Homo sapiens: one gene and its partners. The protein of the gene in region 5 interacts with the protein of the main gene of each other region in a pairwise test. Each region holds a gene or a part of one and is shown on either strand. Other genes may lie near its edges.

What was found.
Region 1: the proteins of NOTCH2NLA (region 5) and CHCHD3 interact in binary tests that used the Homo sapiens proteins (3 or more experiments, as listed by UniProt).
Region 2: the proteins of NOTCH2NLA (region 5) and PTPN23 interact in binary tests that used the Homo sapiens proteins (3 or more experiments, as listed by UniProt).
Region 3: the proteins of NOTCH2NLA (region 5) and PTPMT1 interact in binary tests that used the Homo sapiens proteins (3 or more experiments, as listed by UniProt).
Region 4: the proteins of NOTCH2NLA (region 5) and KRTAP26-1 interact in binary tests that used the Homo sapiens proteins (3 or more experiments, as listed by UniProt).
Region 6: the proteins of NOTCH2NLA (region 5) and PCED1A interact in binary tests that used the Homo sapiens proteins (3 or more experiments, as listed by UniProt).
Region 7: the proteins of NOTCH2NLA (region 5) and SPG7 interact in binary tests that used the Homo sapiens proteins (3 or more experiments, as listed by UniProt).

What each region holds. Positions count from the first base shown.
Region 1 is NC_000007.14:132,973,694-132,978,201, forward strand, and holds part of CHCHD3 (MICOS complex subunit MIC19), read right to left. Parts: intron 1,594-4,508; coding exon 1,476-1,593; intron 332-1,475; coding exon of another isoform or gene 284-331; exon of another isoform or gene 1-283. UniProt on the Homo sapiens protein: Component of the MICOS complex, a large protein complex of the mitochondrial inner membrane that plays crucial roles in the maintenance of crista junctions, inner membrane architecture, and formation of contact sites to the outer membrane.
Region 2 is NC_000003.12:47,394,040-47,398,547, reverse strand, and holds part of PTPN23 (tyrosine-protein phosphatase non-receptor type 23), read right to left. Parts: intron 2,406-4,508; coding exon 2,331-2,405; intron 1-2,330. UniProt on the Homo sapiens protein: Plays a role in sorting of endocytic ubiquitinated cargos into multivesicular bodies (MVBs) via its interaction with the ESCRT-I complex (endosomal sorting complex required for transport I), and possibly also other ESCRT complexes.
Region 3 is NC_000011.10:47,570,662-47,574,351, forward strand, and holds the end of PTPMT1 (phosphatidylglycerophosphatase and protein-tyrosine phosphatase 1), read left to right. Parts: intron 1-809; coding exon 810-968; 3' UTR 969-2,268; downstream 2,269-3,690. Other genes in the region: KBTBD4 (kelch repeat and BTB domain-containing protein 4), read right to left, coding at 2,269-3,129. UniProt on the Homo sapiens protein: Lipid phosphatase which dephosphorylates phosphatidylglycerophosphate (PGP) to phosphatidylglycerol (PG).
Region 4 is NC_000021.9:30,318,301-30,322,212, forward strand, and holds KRTAP26-1 (keratin-associated protein 26-1), read right to left. Parts: upstream 2,016-3,912; 5' UTR 1,736-2,015; coding exon 1,103-1,735; 3' UTR 824-1,102; downstream 1-823. UniProt on the Homo sapiens protein: In the hair cortex, hair keratin intermediate filaments are embedded in an interfilamentous matrix, consisting of hair keratin-associated proteins (KRTAP), which are essential for the formation of a rigid and resistant hair shaft through their extensive disulfide bond cross-linking with abundant cysteine residues of hair keratins.
Region 5 is NC_000001.11:146,222,276-146,226,783, forward strand, and holds part of NOTCH2NLA (notch homolog 2 N-terminal-like protein A), read right to left. Parts: intron 1-4,508.
Region 6 is NC_000020.11:2,834,375-2,838,224, forward strand, and holds the end of PCED1A (PC-esterase domain-containing protein 1A), read right to left. Parts: intron 1,941-3,850; coding exon 1,665-1,940; intron 1,336-1,664; coding exon 1,088-1,335; 3' UTR 940-1,087; downstream 1-939.
Region 7 is NC_000016.10:89,549,323-89,553,830, forward strand, and holds part of SPG7 (mitochondrial inner membrane m-AAA protease component paraplegin isoform 1 precursor), read left to right. Parts: intron 1-1,171; coding exon 1,172-1,287; intron 1,288-3,656; coding exon 3,657-3,813; intron 3,814-4,471; coding exon 4,472-4,508. UniProt on the Homo sapiens protein: Catalytic component of the m-AAA protease, a protease that plays a key role in proteostasis of inner mitochondrial membrane proteins, and which is essential for axonal and neuron development.

The DNA of each region.
Region 1 (4,508 bases), on a different chromosome or scaffold from region 5:
GACTTCCTTTCATGTTCTCTGTTTGCAGCTGGTCATGGGTTGGTCTTTCAGAGAAGTGACTAAGGTAAAGAATGGGAGAGACTAGAAATGAGCCTTCTTCTTAGAAAGTTTTAGTGTTTCCCAATTGCCTAGTGAACTAGGAAAATCCCCCTCACTCTTCAGTTCAAAGTTCTCCATTCCATGGTCCCATTTTCCCTGTCCAGTGAGTTCCCAACTGTGCTCCAATGAGGACTAAAGGTTCCGAGGAGTAACATCTGGGTTTCTAGGAAGGCCGAAGTGGAGGCTAAGCAGTCAACACTCCAGGTTTCACCCAGAGCAGCTCCACTTTTATCTATCAAATAACAATAAGAAATTGCTTAATAAATTATGTTGAATACAAAAGGCAGAACATTATTCAGCCATTAAAAACTACATTTCAGAAAAATGTTCAGTGACATAGGAAAATGTTCATGAGGCTTAACACCATCTATAGCATTATCTAAATGTTTCAATATGTTAAAAAGCCTAGAAAAAAATAATCTCGAGGAAAACACACACTGGTGTAAACCATGGTTATATCAGAAAGACAGATTGATGGGTGTCTTTTAAACCTTCTTCTGTCTGTTAGTAATACTTTTAAAGACAACAACAAAAACATGTCTATGTAATCTTTTAAAAGATTAAAAAATATTTTCTTTTTAAAAAAATTATCTTAGAAAAGACTGTTCCCCAAGGCCCTGGCTCTACATTTTCTCTTCCCTAAACCCCAGGCAGTGATTGATCAAACCTTACTCACCTTTGCCAGAGTCTTCCAGACTAACATCTGGTAGTTGCCAGCCACGAGAGAAAGAAGCCTACATTGCTGACCCCTGAGGTTTCAAAGACAATAAAACCAAAGGCAAAGGACAAAAAAAGAAGACAGGCCGGGCTCGGTGGCTCACACCTGTAATCCCAGCAGTTTGGGAAGCCGAGGCGGGTGGATCACATGGTCAGGAGTTCAAGACCAGCCTGGCCAAGATAGTGAAACCCCGTCTCTACTATAAATACAAAAATTAGCTGGGCACGATGGCAGGTGCCTATAATCTCAGCTACTCGGGAGGCTGAGGCTGGAGAATCACTTGAACCCCGGAGGCGGAGGTTGCAGTGAGCTGAGATCGCACCACTGCACTCTAGCCTAGGCGACAGAGCAAGACTCCGTCTCAAAAAAAAAAAGGAAAGAAAAAGAAAAAAAAGCAGACAACAATCCTTCAGGTGTGAAACATGTACACATGTCTGCATGTTGGTCTTCAATACTTCCAGAGTTACCTGCCTTTAAAGTCCTTGATGGTTAAACCTAAACTGTAAGCTACTTATAAAAGGCAAAAATCAAAATCTGAGCAAAGAGAACATGAATAATATTATCAACACTAAAAGCTGGCACAGAGTACTTAGCTCTTCCCAAACATCAGAGATTTCCTTGTAGGCAAGAAAATTTCTCCTACATTTTTAATACTCACCAGGTGCTTTGCCTTAGCGCGTTCCTCCTCGCTACATATCCTCTCCCGAAGGATGGCTCTGGTTAACTGCTCATTGGCAGCAGCCCTCTCTCGGTCCAGCTCTTTGGCTTGCTTTAGTCTAAAATGACAAGAATTGTCTAAGTTAGAAAAAATATTTTATTAGTTGACATTATTTTCTATCAAATGAAATAATTTAAAAATAGAAACACATAGCCAAAAAGGTCAACAGCTGAAATCATCTTGGCCCATAATCTATCAAAAAAGCAGGTATAGAGGTAAATCCCCATGCAGCCTCCACTCAAGCATTTCAAATAACCAAATTCAAATACATGAAGAAGCTTATTAATTTGGCTGCCAAATATAACTAAGTTTTACAAAGTTCTTCTTATGTAAAATTAAAATCTGCCCACCAAAAAAATTCCATCCCTGGTGCTTCCATTTGGCCTCTGAAAATTTAAGTAATTAACAAACCATCTAGGCCAGGCGTGGTGGCAGCTCACACCTGTAATCCCAGCACTTTGGGAGACCAAGGCAAGTGGACCACTTGAGGTCAGGAGTTCAAGACCAGCCTGGCCAACATGGTGAAACCCCGTCTCTACTAAAAATACAAAACTTCGCTGGGCGTGGTGATACATTCCTGTAATCCCAGCTACCTGGGAGGCTGAGGCAGGAGAACTGCTTGAGCCTGGGAGGTAGAGGACGCAGTGAGCTGAGATCATGCCACTGCATTCTAGCCTGGGCGAATGAGACTCCGTTTAAAAAAAAAAAAAAAAGCCATCTACATGACAAATATTTGAAGGTAACCATCGTCTCTTTCTCCAAACTTACTCAACTCGTCCATTTACTGAATGCACACCAGGCACTGTGCTAGGCATTGAGGACACAGCGATAAACAAGATGGACAGGTCACTGTCATTGTGGATGTTACAGCACAGCAGAGAAGCCAGACATTATGGAACTAATAAGGACATCTTTCCTCCCAGTATATTACCCCTATTTTCCAACAATCCTCATATGCAAATATGACCACGCCTTTCAACTGCAGGGCTCCTCACTTCTGGAATGACTCCAATCGATCTGTTAGCTCCAAACTAAACCTAACCCTCCAGACATGCTCTAGCAAACTAAGACAGGAGAATCTTACTTCCCTAGATCTGTACACAATACTAATTCTATTAATGAAGCATAAGATTGCATTAGATTTCTCAGTAGCCTCATCACACAATTAGATCATATTAAGTTACAACCCACTAAAACCCCTCATTGTACATGATAAAGATAAATTACTTTGGCACTGATTTTTGCCATAGTGCCTGGCACATAGAGGCATTCAGTAATCACTGAATCACTGAAGATTTCAGTCTAATCTCATGAACAAAGATTTTCTGACTGCCTTTTCTTCTTTGAGAGAATAACCCTACTATACCATCATATCCCTGAAGGTATAGCTATGCTTTAAAAAGGAAAAGTAAAATTGTTATGTTGGTGTAAGTGAAATTCTGAGTGAAATCTACTTTATACGTGTGAATGATGAGCACCAAATTCTACTCAGTACTAGCTTATCAAATTTTAGTTTTAAAAAGATTTTTGAAAAAAACTAGAGATAAAATTTTGTGTTACTATTTTTAAATTGCTACATCATCCTGATACTCTGGAATTCTCAGAAATCAACTACAACAGAAAAAAAAAAGTCACCTTGTGAGATATATTCCAAAGTTATCATCCTTTTCCCCTAAAAATCAAAGCTGTGTAGTTTTGTGTCTTAAATAAAAAAAAAGAGGACTAGAAACAAGTTAAAATCTGTATTTCGAAATTCTCTAATGCAAAAGTAACCTTTGGGAAACTTCCTAAGCAATAAGCACAATGACACTCATACAAACCAAATTTCTCTAAATTATTTCACAAGGACCATACAATAAATTCAGCAACATCAATGATATCAACACATTAACACCACTGGATATGTGTAATTGTAAGAGAACAGCAATAATTAGAAGTCACACCACTTCCTAGAACAGCAGTTCTAAAACTACAGTCCACAAACCAGCTGCAGTAGCATCAGCTGGGAGTCTGTTAGAAATGCAGCTTCTCTGATTCCATCCCACACTTGCTGAATCAGAAACTCTAGGGATAGTGCCTAGCAAACTGTCTTTTCATAAGCCCTCTAGAATTCTGATGCATGCTAAAGTTTAAGACTACAGCCCTTAATTACCAAAATACACTTGTACTCAAATAAATCCTGGAGGTAAATGAAAGTAACATCAAAAATGAAGTGCTCCCCATGAGAATATTGTGCAAATAACTGCTGAGGTTATCATATCAGATTACAATACTGTATTTAACGCATTTGTATGGACATCTTACCCCTAAGTAAAAAAGCATTACCTATTTTTACCAGTGAGGTGGAAACTAAAATAAAATAATAAAATTACTATCATTTATGGATCAACTACTAAGCACTGTGCTAGGCACTTTACAAACATATATAAAATGTTTATTCAAATTCTATTATTAGTTCATGAACATAAAATGAATTCTGTTCAACTGAATTATCACATCTACCACATTTGGTGTATCTAATTTTAAAGTACTGTTTAAAAATTACTACTTTTTTTTTCCATTTTAGTTTACTTATGTATGGCTTAGATTTTAATTACATATGGAGTTCTACATGGTTCAACTTTAAGAAATACAGGATCATAAGGATTTTGGCAAGTTAATGAAAAAGAAGCAAAACATGAGCACAAAAGCCTTCAATGTGATAATAAAAATAAACATATTTAGCTTGCCATGACTGGTACAGATATGCAAACTCTGGGTCCAAATCAAGGCTCTAAACTTCCTATCTGAATAAGTACTTTATTTAATCTCCGGTGAGTCCTGTTATTCTCATGGGTAAAATGAAATAGTGTAATACCTACCTTACAGCGTTCTATATAAACAAGGCACTCAGCACAATGCCCATAACATAATATACACTCAATAAATGTTAGGTAAGTAGCAGTAATAATAATAGTACCCACTATGCGGGTA
Region 2 (4,508 bases), on a different chromosome or scaffold from region 5:
AGGCTGATTCTTGGCACAGGGGTAGCCTACAACAATCAAAAACACACAAAAAAACCCAGCAAATCCCGGGGAAGGGGGAGAATCTGATATCCAGAGATATGACATCATTCGATTCTTTTTTAATTTCCTTCAAGAATTTTTTCTTTGCATTCCTAACTTGGTGATCTGGTGCAAGAGGCCTAGCTTTTGGCCTATCTCAGTTTTTCACGTGCCTTCCTTACTAAGTGTAATAATTTCTAGCTTTTCTTTTTTGAGACAGTCTCACTCTGTTGCCCAGGCTGGATGCAGGGGTGCGATCTTGGCTCACTGCAACCTCCACCTCCTGGGTTCAAGTAATTTTCCTGCCTTAGCCTCCCTAGTAGCTGGGATTACAGGCATGCGCTGCTACCATGCCCGACTAATTTTTGTATTTTTCGTAGAGAGGGGGTTTCGCCATGTTGGCCAGGCTGGTCTCGAACTCCTGATTTCAAGTGATCCACCTGCCTCAGCCTCCCAAAGTGATAGCATTACAGGCGTGAGCCACTGCACCTGGCCTTGTACTAATTTTGAATAACTGACATAGAAAATATCTTCACCAGGCGGGGCGCGGTGGCTCACACCTGTAATCCCAGCAATTTGGGAAGCCGAGACAGGTGGATTACCTGAGGTCAGGAGGTCGAGACCAGCCTGGCCAACATGTTGAAATCCTGTCTCTACTAAAAATACAAAAAATTAGCCGGGCGTGGTGGTGGGCGCCTGTAGTCCCAGCTACTTAGGAGGCTGAGACAGGAGAATCACTTGAACCTGGGAGGTAGAGGTTGCAGTGAGCTGAGATCGCGCCATTGCACTCCAGCCTGGGTGACAGAGTAAGACTAGGTCTCAGAAAAAGAAAAAAGAAAATATCTTCACTCAGTAGACTAAATGAAAATGTATCCAAAAATTTACTGATGGGTAGTATACTGGCAATAGTTGCTAGTACTGCTGGGTTATTGCAAGGATTGGTATGTGGTCCATGATAGACAAGAAAACACTAACAGCTACTGATTTCTATGGCATGTATCTACATTACTGGTACTCAAGTTCAGCCATGCCAGTGCAGACTCTTACCCTTCTAACAAAAACATAAGGGAAAACATGTTGTTATCCAATAGTACATACAATAATCAGGAAAAAAATACAGCATACCTCATTTTATTGCACTTCACAGGTGCTGTGTTTTTTACAGACTGAAGGTTTGTGACAATTCTGCATCACACAGGCCTGTCGGCACCATTTTTCCAGCAGCATGTGCTCATTTCATGACTCTGTGTCACATTTTAGTAATTCTCACAATATTTCAAACTTTTTTATTATATATCTGTTATGGTGATCAGTGATCAGTGATCTTTGATGTTACTATTATAATTGTTTTTGGTGCCATGAATTGCACCCATAGAAGACGGCAGACTTATAAATGTTCCGTGTGTTCTCACTGCTTCACTGGCTGGCCTTTTCCTGCCTCTCTCCCTCTCCTCAGGCTCCCTATTCCCTGAGACACAATAATATTGAAATTAGGCCAATTAATAACCTACAATGGCCTCTTAAGTGTTTAAGTGAAAGGAAGAGTCACACATCTTTCACTTTTGTTTTGTTTTCTAAACAGTCAGGGTCTCACTTTGTCACTCAGGCTGGAGTACAGTGGTATGAACATGGTTGGCTCACTGCAGTCCCAACCTCCTGGGCTCAAGTGATCTTCCCTCCTCAGACTCCTGCGTAGCTGGGGACATAGCTGTGCACCATCATGCCTGGCTAATTTTTTTTGTTTTCTATAGAGACAGGGCCTCACTATGTTGAGGCTGGTCTCAAACTCCTGGGCCTGAACTCCAGGAGGAACCAATCCTCCTGCCTTGGCCTCCCAAAGTGCTGGGATCATAGGCATGAGTCACACATCCAGCTGTCTTTCACTTTACATCAAAAGCTAGAAAGGGCCAGGTGGTTTCTTTTTTGTTGTTTTTGAGATGGAGTCTCGCTCTATCACCCAGGCTGGAGTGCAGTGGCATGATCTCAGCTCACTGCAACCTCCACCTCCTGGGTTGAAGCAATTATCCTGCTTCAGACTCCTGAGTAGCCGGAACTACAGGCACATGACACCACACCTGCCTAATTTTTGTATTTTTAGTAGAGATGGGGTTTCACCATGTTGGCCAGGCTGGTCTCAAACTCCTGACCTCAAATGATCTGCCCACCTCGGCCTCCCAAAGTGGTGGGATTATAGGCGTTGAGCCACCATGCCCAGCCTAGGCAGTTTCTTTATCTCCCTATCAAACCAATCCTGTCTACCCATGCATAAAAAGATAATACTATCCTCCTACCTGTCTGAGCAACTCCAGCTTCTTCAGTTCTTCATTGTAGGCTTCTGGGTTCTCTCCATAATTCTTCAGGACAAACTACAGAGAGAGAAGAACATAAGCCAGTGGCAGAGAAGACCCCCGCCTTGCCCTCTGAGTCCTGGGCAAGCACCAACCAGGACTCAGGATTAAGTGCAGACCTACAACCATAAGCGTGTCTCCTGGACCACCAGGAACTTCGCCTCCTGAACAGGCAGCACCAAAATGCTGACCACGAGAGCCGTGACCCTGCACCAACACTCTGGCAGGTCCTCCTAACGCTGCAGTCTCTCTACAAAGTCCAGGAGTCTGCCAGCTCAGGAAGCCAAGGAACTCAGCGGACTGAAATGGGGTCCTAATAAGGATTCCAGAAAGGGTCACGAACTCAAGCCTCCCTAGAAGATTGGGCCCTGCTGCGTTGTGGGGTGACTACCATAACCCTAAGCTGATAGCAACTGCAGGCAAGAGGCACCAAACAAGAGTGGGAACAGAAAGCCTCTCTCACCAACCCATTCTCCTGGCCTGGGAAAGGACAGCATAGAAACATGTGATCTGCAGTGTCCTCATCTGTGAGGAAAGACTTGCAGCTGTGTGAGGAGAATGGCCCAGGTGGGAGAAGGTGAGAAGGGGAGGTCACTACCCACATCAGAGAGAGCACTGGAGTGCCTGTCCACAGTGGCACTCACCACCTCCAGAGCAGACTGTCTTGGACAGTGAGCATACACACCCACCTGGAGGCACAGGCTTAGCCCAAAGGGCCCCCTGTTCAACTCAGATCACCAGACTAAGGCAACTGCAACTGTCCCTGTTGCAGTACTTGCTGCTGGTGTCTTGGCTAGCAATCTGGGAGGCCAGATCCACTCACGCCACAAACACTATGAGCACTGATACCCACCTCACAGGGCTCCTTAAGGCCATGACCAAGGTTTGCAAGGTAGAGAGAGGTGGCTGAGAAAGGCTGAGATGAGGCAGCCTGCTCTGTCTGGGAGCACACTCACTCACACCATGTGTGTGGCCCACCCATCTTTCCTGAGGTCCCTTCCCAGGACCCAGGATGCATAGCTAAGGAATCAGCCACATGGGAACCGGGAAGCCTGGGTGACAGCTTCTGTCTGCCTGGTGAGCAAAGGGAGAAGAGGAACAGATGGCAGGGAGGCGACAGCTGAGCTAATTACAGCATCAAGCAACCCTTTCCCAAACCTCTGAGTCTAACCCTGGTTCTTCTGTTGGTTTCAGCTCCTGAAAGTCCCTGTGTCCATAAGCTCTTTTCTCTCTCCCCATGCCACCTCTGTCCTGGACAACCCACCCCTTCAAATCCGTCCCTTACCAAGTGGCCAGAATTGTTATTTCTAGCACAACTCTGAGGTCACTTCCAGCTTTAAATCCTTCTGAAACACACACACACCCTTAGGGAGAAGATAGACCAAAACATGCTTATCTCAGGACAGTGAGATGATAGGAAATGATATATAATCTAAAAAGAATGTGTGCAGTAGCTTCCCAAAGCCTCTAGGACCAAATCTAATTTTGGCACAGAGTTTATGACCCTGCACAACCTGTTCCTGGCCGGGTGAGGTGGCTCAAGCGTGTAATCCCAACACTTTGGGTGGCCAAGGTGGGAGGATCACTTCAGGTCAGGAATTAGAGATCAGCCTGGGCAAAAGAGCAAGACCCGTCTCTACAAAAATAAACAACCTGCTCCCCACAACCTTCAAGGATTTTCCTCTGGCACCTCCCAGGGACAACCAGCCAATAGTACTTGGGAATTGCTGCTCTCAGGTATCAATGCCTATCTACATTGTCCCTACTTTCTCTACTAAGACTCAGCCGAAATGTCACTGCCTTGAACATTAGCTGCTCTTCCGCTCACATTCCAAACATGCCTCCAACATACTGTGTGCCGACGGCAGGGTCATGCCAGTGACCCCAGCCTCAAACAATAAGCATTAAGGAATGGTAGGGGCCTTATCAGATGTGTTGTATACTCAGCAAATGATTGCTTTTACAGGAAATGCAGAGGACAGATGAACACGAAAAGGAAACACTCAGAAAAATTCAGAAAATGGGGCAACAATGAACCCACTCTCTTCAAAAAATTAATGTCATGTAAAAGGAGGGGGTTGAGCAGTGGACTATTCTAGATTAAAAATGATTAAACAGGTT
Region 3 (3,690 bases), on a different chromosome or scaffold from region 5:
AAACAGGCTCCAAACTGGATTCTGCCTATTAATGTGTCATAATTGGCAGGTGGGATGCTTTAAAAATATTTAGGAGAAACAAATACCCTGTAGTCCATCATCATTTTGTAACCTAAGTTACAAAATGTCTGGCTCCCACAGAGCATTTTCTAAGTCATGTGAATAGCTAAGTCTGGCCTTGTGTTACTGTGGACTAGTGTGTATATAGTTGAGTAATATTAAAATTTTGGTCATAAGGGCTCTGCTGGAAGCAGGGTCTCAGGAGGGTATTTTGCACCAAGTGAGAATTGAACTAGCAAGTTAGAAATCTGTATTTTCTTGGTTCTGTTGAGTTCTAAACCAATGAGTATCCTTAGGACATGTTAACCCTCCTATTTAAATTATGAGTTACTTGTTTTTCTAGCCATGGTGACAAGTTGCATAAAAACATCTATTGCATACTCGTTCCTAGAAATTCTTGTAACCAAAAGCCCAGCTCGGAGAGGACGTGGAGTAGGCTGAGGCAGTCTTGAACTTAGGATCTCAGCTTCCCATGTGCAACTTCCTTTTTCTAGGATTTGGCAGAGCAAGAATTGGGTAGAAAGACTGACTTTCCACCTGACCTGTTGCATAGTATTGTGAGACTGGCTGACTGCAGTGGTTACAGTACTCTCCCATTTATAATACAAGCAGCATGATTTTTAATGCCTGCAAAATAGAGTTTCCAAAGAAATGAAATCTCAGAGTCCTTTAGCACCTGCTCATGGGTCAAGGGCACCTTGACACCTGCTTCTTTCTTTCTCTGCTGATTTCCCAACCCTGTACTTCAGGTGCACAAATGGAGTCCAGAGGAGGCTGTAAGAGCCATCGCCAAGATCCGGTCATACATCCACATCAGGCCTGGCCAGCTGGATGTTCTTAAAGAGTTCCACAAGCAGATTACTGCACGGGCAACAAAGGATGGGACTTTTGTCATTTCAAAGACATGATGTATGGGGATTAGAAAGAACTCAAGACACTCCTGCTTGATACAGAACAAAAAGAGCTTAACAGGACCAACAGGGCTTAAGCCCAGACTTGACGTAACAGAAATGTGCCAATAGGTAATAGGTAATTTTTCTTTCTCTGACTTGTTTTGTTTTCTTGAAATAACACTGTTGTGTGGCTAGAAAGGAAAAGATTTAGTGTGGCTTGTATTCATGGGATACAGGACAGGGATGGGGCTATCATCTTTTCTTGAATAGGGCTAAAGAAGTATTTTAACAAAAATCTATTATGTACCTAATATTGTGCCTAATAATATTTAGCACCACAACTCAAAAAACATTTAGCACTTGAAAAAAGGAGACTCACCTCTGGCTCTTTGCCACTGTCAGAATCTGAATCTCACTGGCCCTGTGGAGTAGGGATCCTATCTGGAGAAGTGGGAGCATGGGCTGCAGTCAGGACTGCTGCAGACTGAGCCATGTGATGGTACGTAATGAGTTCCCCTGAGGGAATGAAACACCCTCACCCCTTCAAAGTCACCCCTTTGGAATTCAACACAGACACACATATCCCTTCAAAAACTTTTATTTGTATCAACAGTTCCTAGCTCTTGACTTAGCTTAGAGCTTTTAAAAGAGCAGACACCTTATATATTTGAGATTGAAAAAGTTTCTGCTATTAATCAGAAATAATCATTTCTATTTTCTGGCTTACCCCTTGGAATAAGCCAAAAATAAAACCAAAGTTACATTTCCTGACAGATGGATAAGAAAACAATAGAAGGAACATCCTGAATTCTAGAGTTGACTCTTGCTGGTGAAGTACACCTTCAGCTTAGTCCATTCTCCTAAGTAAAGCCTGAAGGAAAACTCTTAACACCTAATTCTTTGTGGAAAAATGATCAACTAGCCATTTCACAGGCTATAGAACAAAAGTACAATTGGGCATCTTTCCTTATGTCCTGGGATCAGGGGTGCTTACATTTAACATTGATCAGGTAAAGAGGAGAGGCTGTGCCTAAGGTCTGAGAAAAGGCTTGCTCTAAGCAAGCTGTGGTGAGGCACAGGATGACTAGGGAATGGCAGAGAACAGGCTGGCCTACTGTCAGTTCAAGCAACCAGCTGAGCAGCAGCAGTCTAAAAAGCCCCAAACAGAACACCTCCATGGATTCAGGGAAGGGCTGAGGCACTGCCTTTCTAGTATGTGCCAAAAAAAACATAACTCTGAATTGGGGCCCAGGGGACTTTGAGTTTGTATGGGGAGGGAAAAGGAGTGAGCAGTTCTCCTCCCCTCCCCACAGCCTTAGGCCAACACAAACTGCAAATTGGTAAGCAGCACCTTAATACCTCTTGTGACAGTTACGGCTGAAGTGGCAGGGTCAAGCTTGTAGGTGTTGGCATCCCCCTTTTTATATCGGTCCCGGAAGACATAGATGCTCCCGTTACAGCTGGCAATCTTCCAGAGGGATGGGGCAGAGCTCCAGGCCTCAGGAAGGCAAAGCCGGGTGAAGCTGTCTAGCAAGGGATTGTAGCACACCAGGGAGTCCCCTTCAGCCACGATGAACACCAGATCTTTATGCACAGCTGCGTGCATGCGGCCTGCAAAGGGCAGCACATAGGGCTTCACATGGCATTTGTCTGTCTCTGTGTCAAAGCACTGGATGAGTCGGGAAGGTTTGGTAAAGAAGTCCAGATCATTCTCCTCCCCCCCTAGTAAGTAGATGATCCCGTTGAGGTTGGCACCAGCAGCCCCTGACACAGCCACCTCTAGCTGAGTTGTCTCTGTCCACACATTATCACCTACGCGATAATAAATGACTGCGTTGGAGAGGGTATCTTGCAGTGTCTTGCCACCCAGTGAATATATGGCATCTTTCCCGGGCACAGACACCAGGGTGTGCTGGAGCCGGTCCCGAGGCAAAGGAGCACACCACTCCCAGTCAACGGTGGCATTGTTGCACTTCCACATGCGCCGTGGGATGGACCCTCCCACCACATACAAGTCTCCACCATGCTTGCAGGCCGCAGTGATCTGGTGGCACAAACTGTTTTGGCCACTTACACTGATGGAGTCATCTTCTGCACAGTGCAAGGACACAGCCAACGAGTGGGTACGAGATGACTCTTTCCCAATCAGGTAAATGTGCACATTCTCCCCAATTTCCTATTGGCAAAATTAAAATTATATGACAGCTGTTAAATTCTAGGCTAAGGCTCAGCTAAGACACATATCCTTAAGATCCTGGCCCTCACACTTGTTCCTAGCTTTATCATACTACTCTCTAATTACTGTATGGCATCCAACTCTCCTCTAGTCACTTTCTTTGAGGCAATTTATGCCGGGCGGAGAATCTGTTGTATTCATCCTTGTAGCTTTTAAAAAACTCTCATAAGCTAGTGCTTCAGACAAAGGGTGATTAAGATTGTTAACTTGATGACAGTAGTTCTCAAGGAACTTTGAAAGCTCATAGATTGGTGGTACTGGGGTTACAAAGACATCCTTCTCCCCAGCTCATATCAACTTCAAGCCAGAGATAACTTATTCAAAAATAAATAAATAAATACAAAAAATTAAAAAAACAAGAGATGGCCGGGCACAGTGGCTCACACCTGTCATCTCAGCACTTTGGGAGGCCGAGGTGGGCAGATCACCTAAGCTCAAGAGTTCGAGACCAGCCTGACCAATATGGTGAAACCCTGTCTCTACTAAAAATACAAAAATTAG
Region 4 (3,912 bases), on a different chromosome or scaffold from region 5:
TTAATTAATGAAATATATGCCCCCACACATTTTAGGTTGAGTGAGAGAAAAAATGTATCTTTAATTGTTACATGTCCCATAGCTTATAACTTCTGGCAAATTCTGTGATAGTTCAGGACTGTTTTGTTCACCTCAGTATCTTTTGTGCCTGGCATATAGTATGCAAGCAGTACCTTTGTTTCTGAATAAATCAAAAGATTAATTAATGAACTCAAGACTGTGTTTTTGTAAAAGCAAGTATGAGTTTTCAAAACAGAGCTGAAGAACATACCGCTCTCGATGATGACCTATGCAAAAGGATGGATGACTGTAAAAAGCATATGTTTGGGGACCCATGTGTAAGTCAGGATCGCAGGAGCTTAGTTTTATTATTTGCAATATTGAGCAAAAGAGCATGAAGCCAGAGAGGTATGGGGGAGAAAGACAGTGAGGGAACTAGGTGTCATGCTAAGAGGTTTGAATATTTATCTTATGGGAATAGATTATAGGAAGCCATCAAAGGCGTAAGCAGAAACTTGGTTAGGTTTGCAATTAGAAAGAACATTCTGGTGGAAGTGTGTTCATGGGGTAGAGAGATAAGAGACATCACTCCTAATTTTTCCTTTTCAAAACAGCTTTCCCAAGGACTTTTTGGGTCTCTCAAGTACATAGGGTCAGAAGTCTAAAAAGCAGCTTAAGGAATAAACCATCAAACAATCCCTCTACTGTCAGGTAAGAATATATGGTTGAGTATCACTTGTCCAGCTCAGTCATCTTGCAAGCAATTGACGTTGGTTATTTCTGTGTTGAAATTAAGTCATGAAACACAAAGCGCTGAACCAGATTCTTAATTTGGACTTAATCGCATTTATTATAGTGCAAAACAAATACATTCTTCCCAGACCAGAGCAACATTGAATAGCATTGTAAACTAATTTTTTTGATGTCAAGGAAAGATGAAAACAAGATAAAACATGCGAGAGAAGCAGCTTGCATTAGATCAGGCACAGTAAAACTAAGAAACATCAGTTGCTACTAGCAAAGAAGCAAAAGTCCATGGAGTTTGAATTTTTGTTGTGGATGCTCAGAGTGATTATTCACTGGAACAAAGAAGCTGCTGGTTTCACAGTCCAGAGCAAGATGGACGACACGTGCTGAACACATGGGTCAGAGGTTGGCAACCACTGAACAGAGGCCCCAGAGGTCTGAGGCTGCTGGACACAACGTGAAGACTTTGAGGACGATAGGCCAAGCAACTCGAGGGTTGGCATCCAGAAGTGAGGAGGTTTTGGGGCTGGCAACTCTTGGACAAGCAGAATTGGGGGCGATAGGCATTGGGCACACAGTCTCCTATGGGCTGGTAACTATTGAGCAGCGGCCTCAGTGGACGACAGCCGCTGGACACATACCTCTGTGGTCTACAGGATACTGGAAGGCAGGAACTGGAGAAGAAAGAAGCAGGAAGAAAACTGCTTCCTTGGCAAGGCCTGGGCACGTAGTAAGCAGTGGAAGAACCGCAAGAGGTTTCAAGATTGCCGGTCTCACAGTGGACCGGCTGGCAGCTGGTTGGTTCACCGCAGGTCTCTTGGCAGTTGTCTGTGACCCAGGTATGGTCTTGAGAGCTAGTGGGTAAGTAGAGGACATCTCCACAGCTCACGCTGGTAGGGCAGAGGTCGATGGAGGTGAGAGGAATATGGCGGGAGGTTCTGAGAGATCCTGAGTTGGAGTTTCCCGAGCAGTAGTTGGGGCAAGACATAGTGAGGTTGTGAGAGCAGGCTGAAGTTGAGGCAAAGAAGTGAGTGTCTGAAGTTTGTTCTGCCCTTCCTTAGCTTGACCCTTTATTTATCCCTAGAAGGTGGTGCTTCTGCGTGCAGACTCTTCCTCTTGTTGTATGAAGATGCATCAGAACTCTTTATTATAGCCAAGGAAGTGAGGCTTCCACCCTCCATAAAACTGGATGCTCCTTGCAATGCCATCCATTGATTACGTCTATCTATAAACCAATGCGACTGAGTTTTAATAGGATCTATCCTTCTTAAATTATCCAAACAAAACAGACACATTTTAAAGCCTATGTGCTTATTCCAATTATAACCACCATTGCACAAACATTCTTAAGATTCCTCTCTTAGAATTGTCTTTGAAAGTTGTAGCAACTTCTTTGAAACAGTGAGAACTTACATCTTTTTGAAGAAAAATTCTATTCTTCTTGGAAATTGCCAGAAGTGAGTAACTTGGAACAAGTATAAGAGAAAATGAAAATCCTTGCAAACTATATGACAGAAATATGGACAATTTCAATATGTTTTGCTTGGTTAGAATTTATTTTTCTAAGTTGTGATTTGCTTTATTTCAGAATTCTATTCAGACTTGACTTTCTACCAAAATATCTTTATTCAAAAATATGTGCTCATTTTAGTCATTTCAATAAATAAATAAGCTGAGTGAAGCTGAAACCTTGGCTTATGTTTAAGATATTCTTGAATATAGATAATGAAGTTGGGCCAAGTTAAAATTATGTATCCTACTGTGAACAAAAGCAGAGAAGTAGACCTCTTAAAGAAAGTCAGGCATCTTGACATTTTTCATGATTATTTCAAGGTTATGTATTGCATGGTTTCTCATATTCCAACTGAAAAAATATTGTTCTTGGTTAAAAAATACACTGATTATGACATGAATTTATTTTGCTTTCTACATTGGCCTTGATGTCAATTTCCAAAAAGGAGCTTCTAAACTGCTTTACATAGGGAAAAGCATCAGGATAAATTATTGTTTTCCTAAGTTTTAGTACTTTAAAGGTCATTTGAGAATATGTATTTCTGGTAAAATTGTTTTAAAAAATGTATGATTTTAGTTAGTTTCAACTATCCCTCTATATTTTTCTCATACTGACATACCCAGTGGCTCCAGTAGCTATTTTAATGGGATTTTAAATTATCTGCTGGCTCTAAGTTCCAATTCCTTTTGGCTAGTCAATTTAAATCATAACACTTTCTTCTATTTTGGTGTTTGAGGGACATACTTGTGCTTATCCAGTCTCCCTCTGTCCTGGAGGAGTGAAATCTCTGAAACAGAAAGTTGGTTTCTCAATGAGACAACACTAGACTATTTTACTACTGGGGGAGAAATATAAAAATAAAATGGTATAATCCCGGAGGTCCTGTACTAACATGTTGAATTTATCTCAGTATTTTAGGTCAGACGATTTGTACCTGATGTATTTGAGAAAGCCCCACTCACTCCAACCCCCAACCCCAGGCCCTCATCACCTAATACTGTTTGTATAACCGGATACTTTGTATACTTCGGACATCACCTAATACTCTGTGTATACAGCTGCTAGAGTCTTCTTGTAAAATCCTGGTTGCATCAGCTGAATGGCGTTAGTAATAGGTACAGTCATATTTAGCTGAATGCTTATGAAATTGTATGTTGATCCTTTTTATGTCTGCTCTTCTCTAATATAAACAAGAGCCCAACATCTGTATCATTAGTACATCAATACGCTTGTGTGTATGTGTGGATAGATGTATATACTACATGTTCTATGTATACATGGATGGTTTTCCATGAAGAGAAGGGGTGTGGAATAAGAGGAAACTGGCATTCATGGAATGCCTACTCTGAAGAACCTTGTGCTGTGGGTGCCCACATGTGCCATTCACTTTGTCCTCACAATTCTATACAGTAGATCTTACTATTTCAAGTACTCATACGAGAAAACTTGAGCTTTAGAAAGTTGCAGTAATAGGTATTACGAAAAACATCTGAAAAAAGGCTCCTTGACTCCCCAAACAGTTTTTCTCTATCCAATATGGCATTACATAGAGATGCATTGATACTATCATTTAATAACCAATAACCGTGTGAATTGGGTAATTTGCATAATTGCTCTGCTCCCCAGTCACTATCAGTATAATTTTATGGAAA
Region 5 (4,508 bases):
ACTCTCCTTTTTAAGACCACAATGTATGTTCTGCCATACAGATAATATTCTCCTCAAAAAAGAGAGACAGGAGAAAAAACAGATCTACGGCAAACCTCCTACCACTACCAGTGATGCAGTTTGTCCCGTCTCAAGCCTATGAGCATATCCTTTCAGATCTGAAGCCACTTCCTTCTTCCTATCAAGGACAGTATTATCAAGTGTCTTTGTGAGAGGAGCAATCCTGTGCCCCTTCTTGCAGATTGTTTTGTTCTGCTCAAGAAGCCCTAGATTCCTCCTTTATTTTCCTTTCCTTATTTCATTTGCTGCAGCAGCCCAGAAACCCCAAAAGCAGGACCACCAGAAATGAGTGACCTTTATATCTCTCCACACTAACACATCTGAGGGAAACTGCCGACACCAAATATGTGTTCATGAGCTAATGAAGCAGAAATCCTCAAAGGAAGCACCATTTGCAACGGCTGAGGACAGAATTCTTTAGTGGACACCAAAAAGGCTGTGGAACTCCTATGCATTCTAACATCTCAGGTAACATTCTAATGGAGGAATAAGGAGGCTTACAACAAAGTCATACAACACAAACAGAAGTCCGAAAATGCTGGATTTCGCAAATTTCTTTTAAGACAAAACAAACAACTTTACTAACCTTATACCATAGCAGCTTTCTTCTCTGTACTAAGTGAGGCCAGCAAGTAGGAGGCATTTCCAAGGGGGAAAAATGACCACAGGATCTAGCCAAAGCAACCTGTCTCTAATACTCTCAAAAAACAAACAAACAAAAACAAACACTTTGATTTCCCAGATTCACTCTGCAGTGATTCTAAAACTTTCCTAATGTAAGAATCACCTGGCTATTTCTTGAACACACAAATTCCCAGATGACATTCCAGATGCACTGAATCAGAATCTCCATGAGAACACCTGAGCTATTCTTATCATAAGAGAGGTTAGGGAAACACTGCTTGATAAATGTTATTCTCCCACCAGTGCCCACCTGTGCAGGGAGGTATGAAACAAGTAGGGCTAAGATGCTTTACCTGAGCAATCACCCCAGACATGCTCCTCACTGGGTTTGACTCCTTTTATGGAGAGCTGGGTGTCAGCTCAGTAAAGTCTACAGACAAGCATCTCTTTGGGTCCCTATCACCTGCACAGGTCTCAGGACTCTGAGACAAATTTCTGAGTAGATGTCAATGAGGACAAGTCATGAGGAGATGGATTACAGCTGAATATAAGAAGATCTTTCTAAGAATTAGAGCTGGCCAAAGATGGAATAAACTGCTGTGGAGAGCTGTCTACCACAAGAGATGTTCAAGAAGAGAGAAAATATGGTACCTCTTGACTAGAATGTTGTAAACATCAGATCCAGCATGGGATGGACAGAAAGACTAGATGAATTTTAAAGTTCCCGCCAATGCATAAGTCAACAAAGAGGAAAATTTCAGCCACTCCTTAATTAATTAAAAGAGATAGCAAAAAAAGTCTGTGGGTGGGGTCAGCTTTCAACTGATCCTATCTCTTCAAAGGAAAAAAGAACATAGAAACACACTCCAACTCACCATCAGCCTCTCCTATAGAATGTTCTAAAGGTGGGAAAGCAGGAGTCACAGATGCTGTGACTAAGACCTGCCGCTCAGTTGACTCTGAATTTGGGGCACATGCCAGACAAGTTCTGTAGTACAGAGAAGAAATGTGTGTAGCACAGACCTGGCCCTCAAGGATCAAAATCATGTGGCAGAGACAACTCAACACCATGTGATTCTCTCAAATATTTATTCATCATATTTCACCTTTAGTTTTTGTCAGTAGGGTGTTCAGGGGACTCTCTTGGTTCAAAAAAAAAAAAGCAAATATACTTTACTAAATGTACATATTCTCTCAATCCAGTACAAGTTTGCAATATCCAACTCAATGAAAAAAATCTCAAAAAAAATTATCAAAATAAATATAAACTTAGTTAACTCTAATTTTAAAAATAGTATTCCAAAAATGACTAGTCCCCAAAATGATGAAATTACAATAAGGTGTGGCTATTCTGGACAAAATAACAGAAATTGCTGGCCTAGTAATACAGTAATACAGGAAGCAGTGGAAGCAAACTTGAATGAGAGGCAGGGGGTGGATGGCAGTGCCTTTGAAGTGAGATTCCAAAGTCAAAGTGACCTTTATAAATTGCAGAAGTGATCAGAAAAAGAAAGAAAGAAACCCCACACACAAAGAAATTCAAAATTACAAGTTTAAATGAAACATCTGGGGAAGGGAAAAATTTGGTTTTTCCCCAAATGTAAGGTAAGCATGACTCCTGCAAATACTATTTTTAAAATGTCTAGGAGTACCACAGTTGTCCAAAATAAGAAAGTGGCTAAAAATAATTGTTCGACTGAACAAGTATTTATTGTGTGCCTATTAGATACCAAGGCATCATGCCAGGTACAGGGGTAGGGTATGGGCATTAGAATAAACACATAAATGAAAATACACGATTCCTTCCTCATGTACGCATTAACAATAAGCACTTGAGGATGTTATAAGAGTTTTTGTGCACATAAGCGCATTTGTACACGAGATGGAAGCAATGTGGACAGTGAATGAGGCACTGGACACCAGAAGAAAGGAATTCTAGTCTCAACTCTAATTGGCTCTGTGACCATGAACAATGAACATCAGAAAATGGAGGACCAAAACAGTGGCTCTCCTACAAGGTCACCAAACCAATTAATAACAGACCTGGAGAAGAATTCTGGTCTTCTGGCTCCTAGTTCAGTGATCTGTCCAAAATACTACACATATGGTAGACTGACAAAGAAAGAAAAGAAGACCTTTTGGTTTCAAGTCATTTGCAGAGAAAGGGGGGGAAACAAAAACAGGAAAATCAGGAAAGGGTGGAAGGAAAATTAATAGTTCAAATTTAGGCATTCGAACTGAGACATCAAGAAAGGAAGCATGTAACTATGGACTGTGAACACAATATAAAGAAAATGATGTAAAATTTCTTATATCCTTATTCAAATCACGCCTTGCAGTTTTTTACTCTAAAATCATTGCAGACGTATATAGATAAAGGGTCAAAAAACAACATGTATGAATGACATTTAAGGAAAAAGAGATAACAGAAGAAAAGGGAAAAGGAGAGGTAGAGAATTTATTATATCATCTAAATATATGAAGCCCTTCTAAAGGGTCAATGCAGACATACTGCACCCAGATAAACAGAAGAAATGACATTATATTCTATATCTCTTACGTTAGCAATTTTAAAATTCTTGAGTCAGAAGTGTTAAACACTGGAATGACTAAGGTTACATTTGTTATGGAAATTTCTTAAATTTAGAAAGACCTCATACACACACCTGAAGGTAAAAAAAAAATGTACTTAATCAGTGGGTTGCAACCAAGTTACTTGTCAGAATCACCTGTAAACCTTGAAAAAATATGGATTCTCAAACTTACCTTATCAGAATCCCTGGGTGCTGAGTCCAAGATCCACCCCAACAGATTTTGATGTAGCCAGGACACAGAGTTTTTTTCTACCATAATGGGAGAGGTAGGGAGGAGGATCACTAGGAATGGCAACACAGAGTGGGAACTAGATCAATGCAAATTTTGTGGGCAAAATAGAATTTCTGTGGGTGTGATATTTTTAAAATGTATTGTAAGGCTGCTCTGAACCATCCAAGCATATCCCACTGAATTTAAACATTCTCTAAAGGTCCTGAAGTCAGCAACTACAATCCAGGTGAACCAAAAGTTGCTTCTCTATGTCATAGAAGCCTACAGGAGAGGCAGTAGGGTGGGAATGGAGCAGAGAGATCCCAAGAAGTTATGGGTAAATATTTTTTAAATCTAAACATTCAGAAAAATAAGAGAGACTAGGAATCACTCTCCTCCTCCTCTCCACCACACCAAAAAAAAAGGAATAATAAGAAAGTGAAAGGAAAAATAGTTTTAGGTTAAATTTCATCACCATCTGAAAGAAAATTACTCCGATTTTGTTTAAGCAAGAGAAGAATTCAGCTGAGAAATTATCTAGCAGGCAGCAAAATCAGGGAGTCACTTCCCATTGCAAAGCAAAAGAAAACAAGGAGCAAGAGTATGGTCCTGGATAGCTGTTTAGACAATCAGACATACTGCTAACATCTCCTTGCCTTAGAAACTCCGTGATGTTTAAATTAACAATTGGCCACAAGCCAAACACAGGAACACTCAAAAGTTTAGAAGGGTGTGCTGTAATTGGTACCTTAGCAAAACACAATAATAAATTAGGAGGATTCAAGAAGCCTTCACTGTAGACTCTAAGAAGATTTAAGATTTGTACCAAGAAACAGGCTTCTAAATCTCTTCTACTGCATTAGTTTAGCATCTAAAGAACACCTGTCTAAAAATCAAAATATCTAAATCCTATCCTTTGAGTCAACTTGACTAACACTCAACTTGACTACCTAAAAGCTAGCTAATAATCGCAGCACCTCAGCAGAGCAGAGGTGGAGGGCATAGTTTTACGCACTGAG
Region 6 (3,850 bases), on a different chromosome or scaffold from region 5:
ACTACCTGTTAAAGCTGAAATCCTATACCTCCCTGCTTTCAACTTCTGCATGGAGCTTAAAACAGTGTCTCTACCACCACCCCTATCCTGGCACCCACCTTGGATTTTGTCTCCCTCAGCTCCTTTTTTGTCTCACCACCAGCACCAAAGCGGTTGGTCTGTGTTCTCTTTCCTTCCACTGCACATCTCATCAATCAAGTTAGAAGTTTCGAATAGAGGCCGGGCGCAGTGGCTCACCCCTGTAATCCCAGCGCTTTGGGAGGCTGAGGTGGGCGCATCACGAGGTCAAGAGATCTACCTCATCCTGGCCAACATGGTGAAATCTCTTCTCTACTAAAAATACAAAAACTAGCTAGGTGTGGTGGTGTGCGCCTGTAGTCACAGCTACTTGGGAGGCTGAGGCAGGAGAATTGCTTGAACCCGGGAGACAGAGGTTGCAGTGAGTGAACTCCAGCCTGAGTGAGACTCCATCTCAAAAATAAAAAAAAGAAGAAGTTTCGAATACGTCTCCCACTTGGGTTTGGGAGCTTCTAGTTTCATTCCAACCACTTACTGTGTGTCCACTATGTGCCAAGAATTATGCAAGATAAGTTTATGCATCTTCGTATCTTTGGAGGTAGATGAATAACGAATATACACATGAATGCATGAGACCGGGAGGTATAGGTAAGAACTAGCCAGACCCAAAATTCCAGACAAAATATTAACAATTTCCACTTAGCCCTTGATTTTTCCCCAAGGTGCTGACAATAGGGGACCCCTCCAGGATCTCTGTTAAATACACATGTTCTGGTGAGGGTAGAATTAAGTATGAGACAGGAGGGCACATTCAATGATTTCTAAATAGTGTGGGGTCAAAGGCCCCACGTTGGACAAAGCCCAGAGGCAACCTCCCCCAATCTTAAGATCATGGTTTGGGATACCCACTGCACACAGGAATTTGTCACTCTGTTCTTCCATGCCTTTATTGGTGACAGCAATGGACAAGAACAATACCAGGCATAGCAGACACCCTAGCCCAGTACCTGAGGTGCCAGGCAGGCCCTGAAGGGCCATTGGCACATCCAGTCCCAGCCCAAGATCCAGTCTACCCAGGCCATGTCCCCGAATGGGCAGGAGGCCGTCTGTCCAGTTTGTATGTGTGGATCAGTCTCTCTGAGTGTCTGAGCCGCTGCCTGCAGGGCCCCCCCATTCTCCGCACATGGTAGGGGCTGTTAGGAACATAGCGTGGCATCCCCCGGTGGACCACTGGGCCCCAGTGCTGACCATGGGGATTAGGGCCAGGGATTGGAGGTGGCAGAGGGCCAGGCACAAAGTTCACTCCAGGGCCACATCCTACAAAAGAACCAGTCATTATAAGAGCAGGCTTCTGGCCAGAGTGAGTGCAGCTCTGCCTTGAAGCAACTCTTGTCCTCCAGGTGAGCTTCTCTGTTTCCCTATCTACAAAAAAGGGATAGTCCTTCCCCTACCTTCAGACGGTGAAACAGTGACAACCAGTGAGCTGATTAATGAACCTACAGATGATGTTTCAGACTCAGGGACTGCTGTGACCAAACCCAGTGCTAGGGGCACAAGGAGCTACCCAACTCCTCTCAGCTCACCTAGGCATAGGAGGCTGGGTAAGGGGAGGTACAAGAGGGTGGGGGAGCTGCAGAAGCACCTACCTAAGTGGGGTGGCATCGAGAAGTCCTCCACTGGATTATAGTTGAAGAATTCATGGGGTGGGAAGGGCTGGCCTGGGAAAAAAGGGGTATCCTGGGGCAGGGGTGGGAAGAGGGGAGGTGGCGAGGGCTGAGGAAGCGGGTAGGGAAAAGGCATGGGAGGAGGCAAAGAAGAAGGTGGGGGTGGGAGCAAGGCCAGGTGCTCCCCGAAGTCTGGGGTCTGCCTATGGCTTCCCTGGAATGGATGATTCATCTCTGCCCAGTCCTCAATCCACGGGTCTAGGAATGGGATGGTTGTTTTAGGTAGGCTTGGGAGCCAGGCTGCCCTGAACTCTGGCCATCCACACTTCTAAAGCTCTATTCCTTCCTCTTGGAGAGCAGAGCCACCAGGCTGGAGCATCCTTGCCCTCTACCCAGTTTTCCTCATTCCCTCTCATTTCAGGCCAAGCCCAAAGTGTGTTCCTTCTCTCTTACCTCTCAGACTTACCTTTGTTCTAACCTACACTTCCCTCCAGAGCCTTCTTTGTTTGCCCAGGTCTTGTATCTAGCTTTTTCCTCGCCCACCTCCTCCCCATAGACCAGTAAATAAGCCAAACATAAAGATCCTGTTATTCCCTTCCCCAACAACTTCCTTTTACCATCCAAACTTCCAAAAGGAATGTTTTGCCCAATTTCCACTTCCTCCTCAATTGCTCACTCCCTCCTTTAATCCAAACCCATGCCCTCAACACTTTTCCTACTAAATGTAACCACTTGCTAACAAATTCCCTTCTTCTCAACAGTCATGTGACACTGCCAGCAGCCTCAGTCCTTCCTAAAAGTGCCCCTGCCCTCATCTCCTTTTGTTTCCGCCATAGCCCCTCTTTCCTGCCAATCCAAAGCATGAGCATCGTTCTGTCTCCCTCACAGCTGCCACTGTGCCCTCAGTTTTAATCTCTCTGCTGGGTACCAATGACTGCAAATCTACTCTGTATTTCCAAAGAACCTCAAATCAATCTGCTGTGACCAAACTCACCAACTCATCCTTCCACCCCAAATCAACTCTCCCTTTTCATGGCCCTAACTTCTGTAGCTCCAAATTGGATTTCAAAGGCCTAAGCCATCAAAACTAGCCTTACAACCTTCAGGGCATCCCATCATTTGCTGGGGATCAATTATTACATCTAAACAAGAAAATGGGGATGTTTAACCAAAATCTGTATTCACCTCCCTGATGCTCCAACTCCTGGCTACCAAGTGTTACAGGTCTGTCTCTATGATATTCCTGGACTCTCTGTGCCCCCACATCCTCTTGTGCTGCCATAATCGGCCTTCTAACATGACTCGTGCCTCCCATTCAACAAATACAATTCTGTTGATACTGTGTACAGGGAAATTGTGCTAGACACTGGGGCTGAAAGGGGTGAGTCGTCAACAAGTGCAGCAGGAAACTTGCCCTTTAAGGACACGATGCAGGGGAGAAGCAGCCATGGAGACAATCAGCCATGGTGCCCTCTTTGTGTGCATGCAGGGACTAGGGTGTTGACATGGAAACAGAGGTTCTGCAGCAGAGTGTTACAGTTGAGATGTGATGGGGAGCAGTGCCTCAAAACAAGGGGGAGTGGGGCCCTCAGAAGCCTCCACCAAAGGCCCAGAGATGGGGCCCGAGGAGAGCTACACCAAGCTGCACCAGTCACAGTGGGACTCTGAGGCTGAACTAAGAAGCCTATGGAACACTGTCCATTGAGCCCAAGTCCATAAGGCTGGCCTTCCCGATGCAACATCCCTGTTCCACACCCTGCCAGTTGACTGTACCCCCACCCCCCAGCTGTGGGCTTCTTTGCTTCTGCCACACTGCCTGGATGGCCCTTCCTCCCTGTCTTTCCACTCCTCACACCCATGCCCCATTTCTTTCCTGTTAATCTGTTGGGTAGGACCCTTGCAACATGCTGCCTTATGTGGTCAATACTTGTACAAGCTCCTTCAAGCACACAGAAATGACTACACAGCCAGACTGTAGAAAACTGGAACTTGGACAAGAATATTGCTCCGATGATCTAACCCTCCTCAGGGGTTGAGGAAGGTGCATGCAGAAGCCACAGGAGTCCTTCAAGGGACCTCTACTTCCCTTGAGTGGCTGTGTCCCATTCTGTTTCTGAGCCCTGTCCTCTGAGGGCCCCAGTGCATCACTACCCCCCCACTTATGGTAG
Region 7 (4,508 bases), on a different chromosome or scaffold from region 5:
ATGAAGCCTCACCAGTAAGCTGAACAGGGGAGATTTAATGCAAACATTTGTCCCTGGCTGGGCACTGTGGCTCATGCCTGTAATCCCAGCACTTTGGGGGCTGAGGCAGGAGGGTTGCTTGAGGCCAGGAGTTTGAGACCAGCCTGGGCAATACAGCAAGACCCCATCTCTTAAAAGAAAAGAATAAAGAGTATTAGCCAGGCATGGTGGTGGAGCACACCTCTGGTCTCAGCTACTCAGGAGGCTGCAGCAGGAGGATTGCTTGAACCTGGGAGGTTGAAGCAACAGTGAGCCGTGATCGCACCACTGCCCTCCAGCCTGGGCAACAGAGTGAGACCCTGTCACTGACAGAAAAAAAGCCTTGTCCCTGAGGCAAAAAGCTTCTGAAGGGGTGAGTAGAAGCCATAAGGATCCAGAAAGTGATGGGGATGGGAGCTGCGCCTCCAGGTCTGAGGGGAGAGGGAAAGTAAGCAGGAGGCCCGTAACTCAGAGGAGGCCTCTGCCCATCCTGCCAGGGAGAAAGTCAAAAGCTGCTGTTCTGTGACCCTTGCCCCGACCCTGTGGCACCCCCCCAACCATGGGGCAGGAGGAGACACTCCTCAGAGGGTTGCACTTGTTCCTAAAAGCAGCAGGAGCTATTTCGATGATTGCAACATTTATAAAAGAAGAAATCACGACCTCCTTCAACAGCCCTTTGACCTGAAGAGTGTCGTTTTGAGTTGGGGTGTCCAGAGCCGCAGCTGCAGCTCCAAGAGGCAGATGTGCAGAGAGAGGCTTGCTTTGACCACACGGGGCAGGAGCAGGGCCCAGCCAGGGAGAGGCCGGGGTCTCAGCTCACCCCCCCGTCATTCTTTTTTGTTTGTTTTTTGAGACGGAGTCTTGCTCTGTCGCCCAGCCTGGAGTGCAGTGGCATGATCTTGCCCTACTGTAACCTCCGTCTCTCAGGTTCAAGTGATTCTCTTGCCTCAGCCTCCCAAGTAGCTGGGACTGCAGGCGCCCGCCATCACACCTAGCTAATTTTTCTATTTTTAGTAGGGACGGGGTTTCACCATATTGGTCGGGCTGGTCTCGAACTCCTGTCCTCAGGTCATCCGCCCGCCTTGGCCTCCCACAGCGCTGGGATTACAGGCGTGAGCCACCGCGCCCAACTCATACCCCGGCATTCTTTCAGGGACTGCCAAAAAGAGCAAGATCCTGTCCAAGGAAGAACAGAAAGTGGTTGCGTTTCATGAGTCGGGCCACGCCTTGGTGGGCTGGATGCTGGAGCACACGGAGGCCGTGATGAAGGTGGGTCTTGGCAGGTGCCGGCTCCACGGGCCTTGGCCAAAGGTGGGTGGGGAGTCCCGCCTGTGTCTGTAGCTGACTGGGGAGTCCCGCCTGTGTCTGTAGCTGACTGGGGAGTCCCGCCTGTGTCTGTAGGTCATGTGAGAGGAAAGCCTGCCACTGTCATGATCCATGGAGCAGGGTGGGTGGCGACTGATGGGCGGGAACTCGGACGTGGGAGGCAGGAGTGGGCTGTGTCACATCGGAGCATGGTGCTGCTACTGGGGTGACTCGTGGAAGGTTACACCATGCAATGGGGTTTCGCTGCCTTTGCCTGTCCACCCCAAATGACTCCTAACATTGGAAAGAAGTGAGTTGAGTGTACATTTAAAAAATACTATTCTAGGCTGGGCATGGTGGATCACCTGAGGTCAGGAGTTCAAGACCAGCCTGGCCAACAGGGCAAAACTGTCTCTACTTCAAACAAACAAACAAAAAACTACTCTTGTAGGCAGCTGTGAACTCGATGGACATTTATTCTTACCAAATGGTGATGTTACAGCTTCTCTAAGACGTGGCTCCACCACCGGGAGTCCGAGTGCTGCCAAGAGGAGGTCTCTACTCGGAACGCAGGTGCCGTCTTTACAGTGGAGCCCCAGGAAGCCGTGCAGGTTTGAGGCTCACCTGAGAAGGCGGCAGTGCTGTGTTCCTACCTCAGGGTTCACTGCAAACAATGCATACGCTGTAGCAGTTGCCAGCTTGGTTTGTCAGTGCTGGTCTCCGTGATTGGTTCTCAGGTGTGAGTTGTAGCAAAGTTGCGTGTTAATCAGAGAGCGTCCTGCCCATCCCAGGGTCTCAGCAGGGCTGAGGCAGCGTTTGGGGACCAGATCCGTGCTGCTCCTTGGCGATGTGCACCACAGTCATGGGACCAGAGCTAGGCCCACTGTGGGGCGAGTGGACACTCAGCTGGGGGTCCCATTTATGGGACACTAAAAAACTCAGCAGTGAACACGACGTTTTAACACGGTATGTCAAGAAATCAAAATTAATGCAGGGACTTTGGGAGGCCAAGGCGGGCAGATCACTTGAGGTCAGGAGTTCGAGACCAGCCTGGCCAACCTGGTGAAACCCCATCTCTACCAAAAATACAAAAGAATTAGCTGGGCGTGGTGGTGCGTACCTGTAACCCTAGCCACTTGAGAGGTAGAGGCACAAGAATCGCTTAAACCCGGGAGGCAGAGTCTGCAGTGAGCCAAGACTGTGCCACTGTACTCCAGCCTGGGTGACAGAGCAAGACTGTCTCTCAAAGGGAAAAAAAAAGAATTTTTACTGTATTTGATGGGCAAAAGTCAGATAGTCACAATGAAAAAGTGAGTCTCTTTCCCAAGGCTCAGTGTCCTGCCAGGAAAAGGTTGTGAATTGGCTGTTATGGTTTTGGTCATTAATGCAATCATCACTGCAGCCGTTATTTAGAGCTTCTTTTTGTTTTGAGACAGGGTCTCTCTCTCTGTTGCCCAGACCGGAGTCCAGTGGTGCGATCACAGCTCACTGCAGCCTCGACCTTCCGGGCTCACACGATCCTCCTACCTCAGCCTCCTGCATAGCTGGGACTACAGGCATGCCCCACTGGTGGCTCGAGTGATTTTTATATTTTTTGTAGCGAAGGGGTCTCGTTATGTTGCCCAGGCTAGTCTCGAACTCCTGGGCTCATGCAATCTGCCCACCTCTAACTCCCAAAGTACCGAGATCACAGATGTGAGCGACCCCGCCCAGCCTAGTTTTAGATTTTAAATTAAGCGTCCTCGGGATTCTCAGAGCACTTGGATGTGGCCATCTCGCCGCCACAATTCTCAGAAGCAGCAGCTGGGCCAGCCCCTGCCCCGTCTCCGTCCGTCTCCCACTCAGCGGTTCCGTGTTGTCGAGTTAGCTCGTTGCCCCGCGCCACCTCCTTGCACACCTGATGTGGGGCTGTGGGGGAGCAGCAGAGGTGAGGACAGCCTCTGCTGCCTCAGCATCGTGGGGTTCTCATTGCTCTGAACCCTCAGTAGCTGTCGCTGGTGTGAGGGGTCAGCGCAGCGGCCATCGGGGGTGAAACTTGTCCTTCGCCTCTCAGCTGTCTTCTACGGGCCTTGTCTTCTTGACTCCCTGCCTGTCTAGTCATGTATGAGAAGACACTTCCCGGCAGTGTGTGAACAGGCACCTGTGGTGGGAACGCTGCTGTCTCTGGGCTGGCCATCTAGAGTGTTAGGATCCCCTGTTGTTGTAGAGGATGCTGCACATTTGCCTTCCTGCTTTGAGACGCTTTAATGACGGAGACCTCTTAGTCCCACACCTTCCTCCTCAAAGCCCACGCATCCTGCCTACTGACCTGGGTCATCTTGACCTTGTGCCAGGTCTCCATAACCCCTCGGACAAACGCCGCCCTGGGCTTTGCTCAGATGCTCCCCAGAGACCAGCACCTCTTCACCAAGGAGCAGCTGTTTGAGCGGATGTGCATGGCCCTGGGAGGACGGGCCTCGGAAGCACTGTCCTTCAACGAGGTCACTTCTGGTGAGGAGCAGCGGCGCGGGCCCTGGAGGTTTCAGAGCGCTTTTCCCTGCATGACTCCTTCTGTTCCAGTGCATGCCATGGGGTGAATCTGGTGTAGACGTAGCTTTGAATTTATTAAGTATTTTGTAAAAGATAAGTTGTGGTCATAAGAGAGTTGGAGCTAAGCAAGACTTCTTAGATAATTTAATTGGACAAAAACTTAACCTATATGCCAACTCTAGACACATTTAATTGGTTAATTGTTGGTAATGGCTACAGGAAACGGAATAAAATTGAAGCGGCTTCATTGTTCTGAAGCCATTACTGCACTGGGATATCCAGAGAGCTGAAGGAGGGTCCCGGGGGCCCCTGGGCTCCAGGTCCATGGGTTTGCCTCGCATAGGCCTGGGCTTGTGCTTGAGAACTGCCATGCAGTGAGCTCCAGTATGCCCCCGGGTTCTAGATTTCCAAATAAAAGAGCATTTCGGAAAGTTTTAAGACTCTCTTAAGGAACAGTGGTGAGGTGCCAACGTCCTCACTGTCCAGCTTCACGGTGGGTCCTCGGGAGGAAGGGGATGGAGGTGGTGCTGCCTCAGTGCTCTGACCGGGACACCTGGGGCCCAGCACTGCTCTGCGCCTGCAGTGCTGAGGATGCCTCTGTCTCGACCCCGCCCTCCAGGGGCACAGGACGACCTGAGGAAGGTCACCCGCATCGC